Linked DNA regions of Homo sapiens. The protein of the gene in region 2 purifies or fractionates together with the protein of the main gene of each other region. This does not show direct contact. Each region holds a gene or a part of one and is shown on either strand. Other genes may lie near its edges.

What was found. Proteins that work in one complex are often made in the same cells at the same time.
Region 1: the proteins of PARP10 (region 2) and RNF114 purify together in Homo sapiens (affinity purification with mass spectrometry; 2 studies listed by BioGRID and IntAct, with this or other methods). This does not show direct contact.

The regions. Positions count from the first base shown.
Region 1 is NC_000020.11:49,946,373-49,953,407, reverse strand, and holds part of RNF114 (E3 ubiquitin-protein ligase RNF114), read right to left. Parts: intron 4,161-7,035; coding exon 4,053-4,160; intron 1,333-4,052; coding exon 1,267-1,332; 3' UTR 1-1,266. UniProt on the Homo sapiens protein: E3 ubiquitin-protein ligase that promotes the ubiquitination of various substrates. In turn, participates in the regulation of many biological processes including cell cycle, apoptosis, osteoclastogenesis as well as innate or adaptive immunity.
Region 2 is NC_000008.11:143,976,631-143,983,468, reverse strand, and holds the end of PARP10 (protein mono-ADP-ribosyltransferase PARP10), read left to right. Parts: coding exon 1-302; intron 303-403; coding exon 404-537; intron 538-5,387; coding exon 5,388-5,562; intron 5,563-5,638; coding exon 5,639-5,985; 3' UTR 5,986-6,311; downstream 6,312-6,838. UniProt on the Homo sapiens protein: ADP-ribosyltransferase that mediates mono-ADP-ribosylation of glutamate and aspartate residues on target proteins. In contrast to PARP1 and PARP2, it is not able to mediate poly-ADP-ribosylation.

The sequences.
Region 1 (7,035 bases), on a different chromosome or scaffold from region 2:
GGTCAATCAGAGGTTCTGCTCCTACAGATTAGGCTGACAGCTCTTGGACTTATATTTATTAATATTTGTGAAATATGAACTCCAAGGTTCTTGAGCTGTTCCTAAAGCAAGTTTCCAGCAACAGCTTTTATTAACAACTGTTCATCTTGCGATGTGCTGTGCCTTATGAACGATGTCTCGTCAGAACAGACCAGGGGTGGTACTGGGTTTCCTATAGCTTCTCTCTGCATCTACAAAGCAGGTTTTCAAACACATTTTACATGTCGAAACCAGTGTCATAAGGAAAACATTTGTGACAGAAAAACAATGCTCAGTTTAATCTAAGTTACCAAGCAGAAGGTAAAAGAACTAGTATCCGCTGAGTCCCCAAACCTCTTTCTTCTAATTCATCTGAGGATTTTTTGTGCTTCTAGAACAAGAATGTAGGCAGGCTCCCAAATGGAGAGGTAAACATGACCGCGTTGTTTGAAACTACTTCATTAATTTGTAAATCAGAACCAAAAAGCTCTGGCCCTCCCACTTCTCTTAGCTGACCCTCCTCCCCACTTACGGATAAACAGACTTTAACTTCCCTAACCCAGAAACACTTCCACCAAAAATGTATGGTTATACCTTATCCTAAAAAGGCACCATGCAGGCATTTAAGACTGAACCAGTGAACTCTAAATATGTAGTAGTAGAAAATATCACTAATCAAAACTTCCAGCATCAGATGGTACAAAACCCCAAGAGGACTGGTGACATGTACCCCGGGATGGCAACCCCAGCTTCTGGCAACCCCACAGCCCAGCGGGAGCTTCAGCTCTGGTCAGGTGCACGGCTGCCAAAGTCTGCACACCTTGGGGACAAGGAAAGGAGACACTTGCTTCATTGTGCTATTCATGACCCAGAAAAGGTCCTGGCTGGCTTGAAGGACCCGAGAGACAAACACTGGATGGGAGGAATGAGTGTGAAACAAGAGGTGGAGAAGCTAGATTATCTTCCACAGGAGGCGGCAGAAGCTCCAGGAAGTAGCCGAGAACCAATACGAACTCGACCGTGTGACAAACAAGGTTAACAGTAGGGGAAGACAGCTTTGGCAAGAGCCCAAAGGGAAGAGAAGGGCTGACCTGGGGACCCACTTCCCCTGTCAGAAGTGACCCTGTCCCAATGCCATGGCTCATTTTCAGGTCTGTTGAACAGGTAAGGTACAGGAGTCATAGATTTCACGTTTAATATGTAATGGAAGCTCTGTAACATGAGACAGATAGCAAGCACGGACTCTGCTCACTGGTCGATGATGGAGCGCTGCAACACCTGATTCATCATGTCCTCTTCATCAACATCATAATCCTAAGGGCAAAAAGAGACATGCAGCCTCAGCAACTGTTTCTAGATGCAAAGACTGGCTTTCAGTAGAAGCAGGACAGCCTAGCAACTGGATCCGGAGCAGGTTGCCAGGGACCGGATCCCCAGTGCAACTGTTTGTGATGCTAGGTATGTAACTTTGGGAAAATTAATCTGTCTCTGCTGCCTTCTCTTTTTTTTTATTTGATGGAGTCTCGCTCTGTTGCCAGGCTGGAGTGCAGTGGCACAGTCTTGGCTCACTGCAACCTCTGCCTCCCAGGTTCAAGTGATTCTCCTGCCTCAGCCTCCCGAGTAGCTGGGACTAACAGGCGTGCGCCACCATGCCCAGCTAATTTTTATGTTTTTAGTAGAGACAGGGTTTCACCATGTTGGCCAGGATGGTCTCAATCTCTTGACCTCGTGATCCACCCGCCTTGGCCTCCCAAAGTGCTGAGATTACAGGCATGAGCCACTGCACCCAGTCTGCTGCCTGATTCTTAAATGAAGTTAAGGATGCCTCCCTTAAATGGAGATTGAGAAACCCAGACAGCACACGAATGGAGGCTGGCACAGACCAAGTGCTCAGAACATTTGTAAGTCTGTCGGAACAGAGCACGCAGATGCACTGAGCTGAAGAGTTGTTTCTGAGAGGTGGAATCAGTGCACAGTACAGAATCAGATTTTTAGAGCCATACAATACAGCAGAAACTATAGCGCAACTAGCCCTCTTTAATGAGTCATTTTTAGGACTCATTTTTAATGAGTCATTTTTGTTAATGTGACACAGATGAATGTAATTCATCTGTGTCACATTAACAAAAAGGGCAGTTATTCTGAAGTCTGAGTTTCAGACACTGTCAGACTGAGAAAAAATATTCTTTATGACAATTTAGCAGAGAGCTTTCTTTCTTAGATACTGAAATTCAGCCATCAAGACCGAATACCACTCTAAAATCCTAACTTGACATCTATATATGTAAGTAAGAGGTTTACTTGATATAGTTGGCCAAAGTTACCTACTACTATAATGGCAAGACAACAGTGTGCCCCTTTGAAACCATCCAGCTCTAGGGAAAGAATATAAACCTGACAGCCGTATTTGGCTAGTGGATATATGCTATTTGACCTGAAGTATTTTTGAAGATAATTAAAACCTGTGAAACCTCCTGTGAAATTTTCCTGTCCTGCTTGGGCATGGGGGGTGGAGAAGCTAGGCAATGCTGCGCCTGCATTTCCATAGGAAAACAAGGTGATGGCAGCATAACGAGTCAGGCACCACCTGGCTTGGAAATCCTCAGGAGGATCATTTCAATTATGGTCCCCATGGACATGCGAGATTGAGCCTCCCAAGTCCAAATTGTTGTTGTGTGTGTGTGTTTTGTTTTTTTTTTTTTTTTTTGAGACAGGGTCTCATTCTGTTGCCCAGGCTGGAGTGCAGTGGCATGATCTCAGCTTGCTGCAACCTCCGTCTCTTGGGCTCAAGAGATCCTCCTGTCCCAGCTCCCTCAAAGTAGCTAGGACTACAGGTAGGAGCCACCACACCTGGTTACTTTTTGTATTTTTTGCAGAGACAAGGTTTTCCCATGTTGCCCAGGCTGGTCTCGAACTCCTGAGCTCAAGCGATCCACCTGCCTCAGCCTCCCAAAAATGCTAGGATTGTAGGTATGAACCACTGCACCGCACCTGTCCCCAAACCAAGTTCTATAACAGGCAGAAATTATATAAACCACAAGAAAAGTAGACAAAAATTTGGTGGCAGGGCTAGGAGATGGAAAGAGCAAGTATCACTGTCTCTGTCTCAAAGACTGACCAGATCATCTTCTTGTTTGTTTTGAGACAGTCTTGCTCTGTTGCCCAGGCTGGAGTGCAGTGGCACGATATTGGCTCACTGCAACCTTGCCTCCCAGGTTCAAGCGATTCTCCTGCCTCAGCCTCCCAAGTAGCTAGGATTACAGGTGCCCACCACCACACCTGGCTAATTTTTTTGTATTTTTAGTAAAGACGGGATTTCACTATGTTGGCTAGGCTGGTCTCGAACCCCCGACCTCAGGATCCGCCCACCTCGGCCTCCCAAAGTGCTGGGATTACAGGTGTGAGCCACTGCGCCCAGCCCAGATCATCTTCTTAAATGTCACTCTGGGCCGGGCGTGGTGGCTCACGCCTGTAATCCCAACACTTTGGGAGGCCAAGGTGGGCAGATCACGAGGTCAGGAGTTCGAGACCAGCCTGGCCAACATAGTGAAAGCCTGTCTCTACTGAAAGTACAAAAAGTAATGGGGCATGGTGGCATGCGCCTGTAGTCCCAGCTACTCAGGAGGCTGAGGCAGGAGAATCACTTGAACCCGGGAGGTGGAGGCTGCAGTGAGCTGAGATCACGCCACTGCATTCCAGCCTGGGCGACAGAGCAAGACTCCATCTCATGTAAGTAAATAAATGTCACTCTGGCCACCTGCCTGGCCCATGAATAGAAACTGTATAGTAGCTACAGTATACAGACTGGAAGCCCATCTAGCTCCCCAGCTACAGCTGCCTGCCCGCCTCTTCCACTCAGTCTTCTTTTCTCTCTTGTCAATCCCCTTTATCACTGTATCCAGTATACAGACTGGAAGCCCATCACAACAGCGACAAAGTTCAACACTGGGGATCCCCATTTCCCCTTTTGAGAAGAGTGAAGTAGCCGTGCCACTCCCCCAGGGGAGGGATCAGAGCCCAGGCTCCAGACTTACCACAAAAGTGTCATAAGAAAACCGGTGCCGGCGCTGGATGTGCTCTCTGAAGTTGGCGCTGCGGTAGTTGGGGTCTCCCCAGGGCATCGAGGCACATATCGGACAAACCTTTCAACACAAAAGCAAGGTCTTAGGCACCCAATTTCCAAGCTTGCACCAGCCCTCTGTGGCCTGTGTCTGGCCTCCTTTCTTCCAGGACAGCTTTCCTGACATACTGTCCAGGGCCAGTAACTCCTTCCTGTGCACATCAGCAGCCCAAAAAAACACTGCAAATTTCCAGCTCAAGTCAAATGACACGTGGGACTGGGTAAAGTTCAAATCATGATACCACCCTTTCTCATTCCCTACTGTAAGCAGAGAAGTGAGTCAGCCTGGTGGGGGGCCTAGACTGGCCTTCCAATCCAGCACACAAGACAATCCAAAAGCATGAGGAAAACTAAGAAAATAAGCCGATGAGCAATGTCCCAGGGAAGTAAAACACAGCCTTACATGCATCTTAACAAAGGAAATGCTCAGAAGAGGGGGATCAGGCTGAAAAGCCCTCACACAAAAGGTTGATTTGGTTTTTGAAGATTGGGAAGTATTTGGAAAGGCAAAGAGGACATGAAAGAGTGCTCCAGGCCGGGCACAGTGGCTCACACTTGTAATCCCAGCACTTTGGGAGGCCAAAGCGGTAGATCACCTGAGGTCAGGAGTTTGAGACCAGCCTGGCCAACATAGTGAAACATCTTCTCTACTAAAAATACAAAAATTAGCCTTGCATGGTGGCACACGCCTGTAGTCCCAGCTACCTGAGAGGCTGAGGCATGAGAATCGCTTGAACCCTGGAAGTGGAGGTTGCAGTGAGCCAAGATTGTGCCACTGCACTCCAGCCTCCAGCCTGGGTGACAGAGTGAGACTCTGTCTTAAAAAAAAAAAAAAAAAAATTGTGCTCCAGAAGAGAGGCAGCAGCACGGAGAAAAGGCCAGAAGGCGGCAGTTACTGTCAACACATGTAAACAACCAGACCAGTGAGTGCAGAAAACTCATGCCAGGGAGAGAGAAGACCTAAGTGCCCCCACTTAAAGGTGGAACCCTACCCCACAGCAAGGAAGATACAGTGATAAAGGGGATTGACAAGAGAGAAATCTGGAATGGTAGAAGACTGAGTGGAAAAGGTGGGCAGGCAGCTGTAGCTGGGGAGCTAGAACATAGGGTGGGACTAGAGACTGAAAAGGAGATGGCTTCTAAAGGGAAGGGAGAAACGCAGAGTTAAGAACTTGCAGAGGGCCGGGCGCGGTGGCTCACGCCTGTAATCCCAGCACTTTGGGAGGCCGAGACGGGCGGATCACGAGGTCAGGAGATCGAGACCATCCTGGCTAACACGGTGAAACCCCGTCTCTACCATAAATACAAAAATTAGCCGGGCATGGTGGCGCGCACCTGTAGTCCCAGCTACACGGGAGGCTGAGGCAGGAGAATGGCGTGAACCCGGGAGGCGGAGCTTGCAGTGAGTCGAGATCGCGCCACTGCACTCCAGCCTGGGCGACAGAGCGAAACTCCGCCTCAAAAAAAAAAAAAAAAAAAAAAAAAAAAAAAAAAAAAAAACTTGCAGAGGGAGAGGAAGACAGAACAGAGGGCCAAAGGCTGAAGAGAAGGCCTCAACATAGACAACATAATCAGAGGGATTTCAGAAGCCAAAGGAGGGGAAAAAGACAGAAAATTAGGCTGCCATACCAGAAAAGTTCAGCAATAACAGTATCCAACAAAATTATGAGTGCAAGTAACATTTAACCAAGTCAATCTGTATCTAAGACTTTAGCTTATAAACATACATAGATACAGGCAAAGATATGTTTCTCAAAATGGCCAGTTCCATCTTAAGATGAGCATTGATAGCTGCCCTAGTACTCTCACAAAAGCTCATTAAAATTCTAAAATTTCTGCACCACTGTTTACAGCAATGGAGCTGAAGGCTGCCCATACAACAGAGTATGTAGTTCAAGAGAAGCAGTATGAGATAAATGGAAAAATTAAAACTATAGAGGAAGTATACACCTAACTATAAAAAAAGACCTGGTCTGTCAATCACATTGAGAGAGAAAGGTAACACATTGCTAAGATGGAACAAATACTTTTTTGGGGGGGGGGGGGGGGGGGGGGGCAGTTTTGTTCTGCTGCCCAGACTAGAGTGCAGTGGCAGGATCTCAGTTCACTGCAACTTCTGCCTCCCAGGTTCAAGCAATTCTCATGCCTCAGCCTCCCAAGTAGCTGGGATTAAAGGCGCCCGCCACCATGCCTGGCTAATTTTTGTATTTTTAGTAGAGATGGGGTTTCACCATGTTAGCCAGGCTGATCTTGAACTCCTGACCTCAACTGATCCACCCGCCTTGGCCTCCCAAAGTGCTGGGATTACAGGTGTGAGCCACCGTGCCCAGCCTACATTTTTTTTTTTTTAAAGGAGACTACACATGCCAGTAGGTAATATCTGAGTAAAATGTCCAAGGATTGATAAGCCTTTTCCTAATAATTTCACCTAAATCCTCTTTCCCCACAACTATGAAGAAGCTACTTCCAAAAATAAAATGGCAGCTTCATGGAGAAATTTGGTGGACACCAAGGGAACCAAGTTAATGTTACCAACAACAGACATCACATGACTTAATGTAGCACCCAGAGGACAGAGAACTCGTGTACCATCCCTGCCTCTGCCTTGGGGGGAGGGGGAAATTGCTATGAAAGACATTACAATTGTTAAAATTAAAACATGAATTTCACATTAGACATTAGATTGAATCAATGTTAAATTTCTTGAATATGATTAATTATACACACAAAAATATAATTTTCCAAGAAAACATTCTTGTTCTTAAGACATACACACTCCTGTATCAGGGTGCGAAGTATTCAGGGTGCAAAAATGGTCATGGTATCTGTAGCTTATTCCCAAGTGGTCAGCAAAAAATGTGTACTATAGAGCATGGTTAAGCAAATATGGTAAAATG
Region 2 (6,838 bases):
CCAGCTGGTGGTGCACTCGGCCTTTGAGCAGGATGTGGAGGAGCTGGACCGGGCGCTCAGGGCTGCCTTGGAGGTCCACGTCCAGGAGGAGACGGTGGGGCCCTGGCGCCGCACACTGCCTGCAGAGCTGCGTGCTCGCCTGGAGCGGTGCCATGGTGTGAGTGTTGCCCTGCGTGGTGACTGCACCATCCTCCGTGGCTTCGGGGCCCACCCTGCCCGTGCTGCCCGCCACTTGGTGGCACTTCTGGCTGGCCCCTGGGATCAGAGTTTGGCCTTTCCCTTGGCAGCTTCAGGCCCTACCTGTGAGTCTACCTCCTGGACTGAGGGACGGTGGGGTGGGCTGGTTAGCAGGGGCTAGTGCCCCAGGCATGGCTCTGACCCCCCGCTTTTCCCCATGCATCAGTGGCGGGGCAGACGCTGAAGGGGCCCTGGAACAACCTGGAGCGTCTGGCAGAGAACACCGGGGAGTTCCAGGAGGTGGTGCGGGCCTTCTACGACACCCTGGACGCTGCCCGCAGCAGCATCCGCGTCGTTCGTGTGAGTCCATGCCCTGTCTCTCTGGCCTCATGGCGTCCTGGGCTCTTGCACCATTAGCGCCTTGCCAAGTCTGTGGCCTGTCCCTCTCGCCTACATCAAGGTCAGCTGACCAGGAGCTGACAGGCTCCCAGCCCTGTTCTCTGCCCAGAGGGCGTTCCCAAAGTGGGTAGGGAAACAGGAGGGAACAGAGTGGGGGCCTTGGGATCTGATAGGCCTGAGTGAGGGTCCCCACTCTGCCACTCGTGGCTGGGTCAGCAGGGACTATGGGACCAGCTCCAGGCCTCAGTTTCCTTATTTGGAGCATGGGGCGGTGATGCCATCTTGTGGTCATTTTGAGGATTACTCGCTCCACAGATGCGTCCCTTGTGCTGTTCTGGGCGCTCTTCTGCCTCCACAGAAAGGCCCGGGCTCGCTGCGGTCACTGTGCTGATGACACTGCGCGGGGCACTCTCTTTTTTGAGACGGCATCTCGCTGTGTCTCCTGGGCTGGAGTGCAGTGGCACGATCTCGGCTCACGGCAAGCTCCGCCTCCCGGGTTCACGCCATTCTCCTGCCTCAGCCTCCCAAGTAGCTGGGACTACAGGCGCCTGCCACCACGCCCGGCTAATTTTTTAAAAAATATTTTTAGTGGAGACGGGGTTTCACCATGTTAGCCAGGATGGTCTCGATCTACTGACCTCGTGATCCGCCCGCCTCGGCCTCCCAAAGTGCTGGGATTACAGGCGTGAGCCACCGCGCCCGGCCTTGCACGGGGCACTCTCAACTCTTGATGCCCAAAGTTGTGCGTGGGGCCAGCAGCATCACCCTCCACCAGGAGCTGGTCAGAAATGCAAAAAGAACCTCTGGCTGTCCCCAGACCTCACCACCATCATCACCACCATCACACCATCACCATGACCCTCACCACCATCATCACCACCATCATCACCATCACCCCATCACCATCACCACCACCATCACACCATCACCATGACCCTCACCACTCACTGTCATCACCACCACCATCACCATCACCATCATCACCACCACCTTCACCACTCACTGTCGTCACCACCATCATCACCACCACCTTCACCACTCACTGTCGTCACCACCATCATCACCACCACCTTCACCACTCACTGTCGTCACCACCATCATCACCACCACCTTCACCACTCACTGTCGTCACCACCATCATCACCATCACCTTCACCACTCACTGTCGTCACCACCATCATCACCACCACCTTCACCACTCACTGTCGTCACCACCATCATCACCACCACCTTCACCACTCACTGTCGTCACCACCATCATCACCATCACCTTCACCACTCACTGTCGTCACCACCATCATCACCACCACCTTCACCACTCACTGTCGTCACCACCATCATCACCATCACCTTCACCACTCACTGTCGTCACCACCATCACCACCACCTTCACCACTCACTGTCGTCACCACCATCATCACCACCACCTTCACCACTCACTGTCGTCACCACCATCATCACCACCACCTTCACCACTCACTGTCGTCACCACCATCATCACCATCACCTTCACCACTCACTGTCGTCACCACCATCATCACCATCACCTTCACCACTCACTGTCGTCACCACCATCACCACCACCACTACCACCACCACCGTGGCCACCATCATCACCACCATTAGCATCACCACTGTCACCGTCAGCTTCACCAACACACCGTCACCGCTCACCGCCACCAGGATCACCACCACCCAGACGCACTGACCTCATATCCTGGTGGTTTTGTTAATTATACGTACTTGGTTCTTCCGGTGAGCACCTTGATGACTTTAAATGGTATGCTTGAATTTAGTGAGCACCTTGATGACTTTAAATGGTATGCTTGAATTTTTTTTTTTCACTTGACAGCTTTAGAGATTGTTTCTTGCCTTCCCGCATGGAAGATGAGGAGAATGGGCCTCGCTTCTCTCTCTTTTGCCTCCTCCCTCATCTTCCATCTCAATTTGGTCAGTTACATTATTTTTATTATGTCGTAAAGGTTTCTGTAACTATCACAAAGCCTCCATGCGTGGGCCATAGGTTGGTAGACATACTATAATAATGAAAAAACATTTACCACTGAGCCATAGAAAGAGAAGTGAAATCCTAGTTATTAAAATTCTGTTCTGTAAAAAAGATGTTCTAGGATTCAAGGCTAATGGCTTTTCTTTTTTTGACTTTCTTCATTTTTTCCAGGCCATTCTTGACCACCGGGTTACTCAGTACCCCGCTTGTCACCTTTTGGCACAGACTCTTTTGTTTAGTGGGAGTATCTCCTTGAGTGGGTGCTAAACATATTTGACTTTTAAATTTACGTATATGTGAACATATATGTTTAAACATATACATTTATATATTAATATATACATTTATATATATAATTTTTTTGAGACAGTGTCTCTCTCTGTTGCCCAGGCTAGAGTGCAGTGGCATGATCTCGGCTCACTGCAACCTCCACCTCTTGGGTTCAAGTGATTCTGCCTCAGCCTCCCAAGTAGCTGGGATTACAGGCACACACCACCACACCCAGCTACTTTTTGTATTTTTAGTAGAGATGGTTTTTTTTTTTTTTTTTTTTTTTTTTTTTTTTGAGACGGAATCTCACTCAGTAGCCCAGGCTGGAGTGCAGTGGTGCAATCTCAGCTCACTGCAAGCTCTGCCTCCCGGGTTCACGCCATTCTCCTGCCTCAGCCTCCTGAGTAGCTGGGACTACAGGCGCCTGCCACCACGCCCAGCTTATTTTTGTATTTTTATTAGAGACGGGGTTTCACCATGTTAGCCAGGATGGTCTCAATCTCCTGACCTCATGATCTGCCCACCTCGGCCTCCCAAAGTGCTGGGATTACAGGCGTGAGCCACCGCGCCCGGCTGAGACGGGTTTTTTTTTTTTTTTTTTTTGAGACGGAGTCTCGCTCTGTCACTCAGGCTGGAGTGCAGTGGCACGATGTCGGCTCACTGCAAGCTCCGCCTCCTGCGTTCACGCCATTCTCCTGCCTCAGCCTCCTGAGTAGCTGTGACTACAGGCGCCCGCCACCGCGCCCGGCTAAATTTTGTATTTTTAATAGAGACGGGGTTTCACCATGGTCTCGATCTCCCGACCTCGTGATCCGCCCACCTCGGCCTCCCAAAGTGCTGGGATTACAGGCGTGAGCCACCATGCCCAGCGAGACGGGGTTTTGCCATGTTGGTCAGGCTGGTCTCGAACTCCTGACCTCAAGTGATCCACCCACCTTGGCCTCCCAAAGTGCCAGGATTACAGGCGTGAGCCACTGCACCCGGCCGACTTTTAAATTTATATTGCCCTTTACAATTAGAGGTATTTTGCAACTGTAATTTGATGTTGGTATGAACTTCCATGTTCTCGTGTGTCCTAATATGCCCTTATTTGTCCTCATTCTTCATTACTAGTTTGGCTGGATATAGTGTTCAGGTTCAAAATATGTTTTTCCTCAGATATTTGAAGACATTGCTGTTTTTCTTCATTCTTAAAAGAATATTTTTCTTGGAAAGTTAAAAAATATCCCCCCATGGTTTCTTAGCATCTGGTGTCGGTAATGAGAGACCCAATGTGAGAAGGTGAGACTTCTTCCGGTTTGCATATTGACCTTGTTGTGTGTGTGTGTAAACTTGCAGGGTTGGCCAGCTGCGGTGGCTCACGCCTGTAATCCCAGCACTTTGGGAGGCTGAGGCGGGCGGATCACGAGGTCAGGAGATCGAGACCATCCTGGCTAACACAGTGAAACCCCTTCTCTACTAAAAATACAAAAAAGATAGCCGGGCGCGGTGGCAGGTGCCTGTAGTCCCAGCTATTCGGGAGGCTGAGGCAGGAGAATGGCGTGAACCCGGGAGGCGGAGCTTGCAGTGAGCCGAGATCGTGCCACTGCACTCCAGCCTGGGCGACACAGCCAGACTCCCTCTCAAAGAAAAAAAAAAAAAAAAACTTGCAGGGTTTTCTTTCACTCTGAAGGTTGAGGTTTCCTGGCACGTGGGTGCCAGGGGCGTTGTCTTTCCTCATTGTCCTTCTTGGCATTTCACGGATCTTGTGTATCTGAAGATGTTCCTTCAGCTCAGGGAAGCGTCTTCCCTGTGTGTGCTGGAGCTCCGGCCGGTGGAGCTCCTGCTATGCCGGCTCAGACCTCAGGCCCCCTCACCTGCTCCCTCGGAGTTCCTTTCTCTTCCGTTAGCTTCTCACTCTGCATCAGTTCCTGAACTCCATCTAGAACGCTAGCTGGGTCTTCAGTTTGAACCACTTCCTCATTTGGCTCACCCCCTCTAGATTTAGCTCAGCGTCCCTTTCTGAATGCAGGAGCACTCTGGTTTTCAGACTAGTTCCTTTTCATAGCAGCTAGTTTTGTTTAATAGACATGGTGTTCTTTTGCAACTCTCTGAAGAAACTATTTAAAATTTCTTTAAAAGTGTTTCCCAGGGCTGTCAGGTTGGTCACCTGAGGCCTTCTCTCCCACCTGGGTCTTTCAGCACTGAGAGGTCTGTGGCATCTCCTCGTGTTGGAGTCAAGTCCTGTAGGCAGCATAGGGCCCTGGCTCAGCTTTTCTCTGCAGAGGCCTCGCTTGAGTGGGTGGGGTTTGCCCGCCCGCAGACCTCCACGGGAGGGGGAGGGGTCAGGCCTCCCCAGCGGCCCTCTGAAGTCACTTGCTTCACGGAGGTGTTACTGTCTGCTGCTGGACAGAGCATGATGGGGGCTGCAAGGGCTCCCTCAAACCCTGGACTCCTCCAACAGAGGGCTCCTGGTTGCCAGGCTCAGCTCTGCCCTGCGTCGGCCCCAGGGCGTAGGGAGGGTGTTTAATCCTGGCCCGGGCCTTCCCCGCAGGTGGAGCGCGTGTCGCACCCGCTGCTGCAGCAGCAGTATGAGCTGTACCGGGAGCGCCTGCTGCAGCGATGCGAGCGGCGCCCGGTGGAGCAGGTGCTGTACCACGGCACGACGGCACCGGCAGTGCCTGACATCTGCGCCCACGGCTTCAACCGCAGCTTCTGCGGCCGCAACGGTGAGGCCTGAGCCGGGCAGGGGCGGGGGCTCTGCGCACCCCGACCACCCTGACCTTGCCCCGTCTCGCCCTGCAGCCACGGTCTACGGGAAGGGCGTGTATTTCGCCAGGCGCGCCTCCCTGTCGGTGCAGGACCGCTACTCGCCCCCCAACGCCGATGGCCATAAGGCGGTGTTCGTGGCACGGGTGCTGACTGGCGACTACGGGCAGGGCCGCCGCGGTCTGCGGGCGCCCCCTCTGCGGGGTCCTGGCCACGTGCTCCTGCGCTACGACAGCGCCGTGGACTGCATCTGCCAGCCCAGCATCTTCGTCATCTTCCACGACACCCAGGCGCTGCCCACCCACCTCATCACCTGCGAGCACGTGCCCCGCGCTTCCCCCGACGACCCCTCTGGGCTCCCGGGCCGCTCCCCAGACACTTAACCGAAGGGGCCACCCTCTGGCCTCCTGCTTCCCAGGCTCCCAGCTCCGCACAGGCTGATGCTCCCCGCCCCCAACTGTGGCCGCCTGAGCTGTCCCCGGGGACGCCCCTGCCTCCCTCTGCGGGCTCCAGAAGGCGGTGTGGGGGATGGCGGTCAGCAGCGGCCGAGGGGGGCCGGGCTAGGTCCCAGCCTGGGCCGACCCCACCACCAGGGGTCAGCAGAGCCCAGGAGGCGACACCGCCCGCCCGCCGCTCCCAGACCTCGCCCGAGTCGGCTCTGTTGTTTGAATAAACGTGAACGTGAACCCAGGCGGAAGGGACCCGGGAACTCTGACTGCGACCTCTGTTTGGGGAGTGGGGATCTCCGCGGCCCAGGGGCGGGATCTGCTGCTTCCGAGGAGGCGTCGGGGTGCGGGGCGGGGCCCGGAGCTCACCGGGGCGAGCGCACGACGTTCCCGTGTCGCGCACGCCGGCGCAGACAGCGTCTCCTTGACTACCGGCCCGCCCCGTGCGCCGGGGGCTCAGGTGTGCGCCGCTGCCCTGGCCGAATCGCCCGCCCGGGCCCCAGCCCCGCCGCTCCCGAGATCTCGGCGGCCCCGCGCAGACACGGGCGCCCGATCTCGCTGGCAGCGTTCGCTCGCTCTCGGCCGGGCCCGCGCGGCGCAGCTCTGGGTGGGGGCCGGGGCGGGGCTCGGGGCTCGCCCCGCCTGCGCCGCCTCCGCCGCTCTCCCGGCCCGAGCAGTCTGGCTGCGGCGGCAGAGCTGAAGTGAGCGGAGCCACCAGGCATGTATGACCGCGGCCAGGATGGAGAGGCGCGCCGCGTGCGGGCGCTGCGGGGTGGGGGTCGGGGGGCGG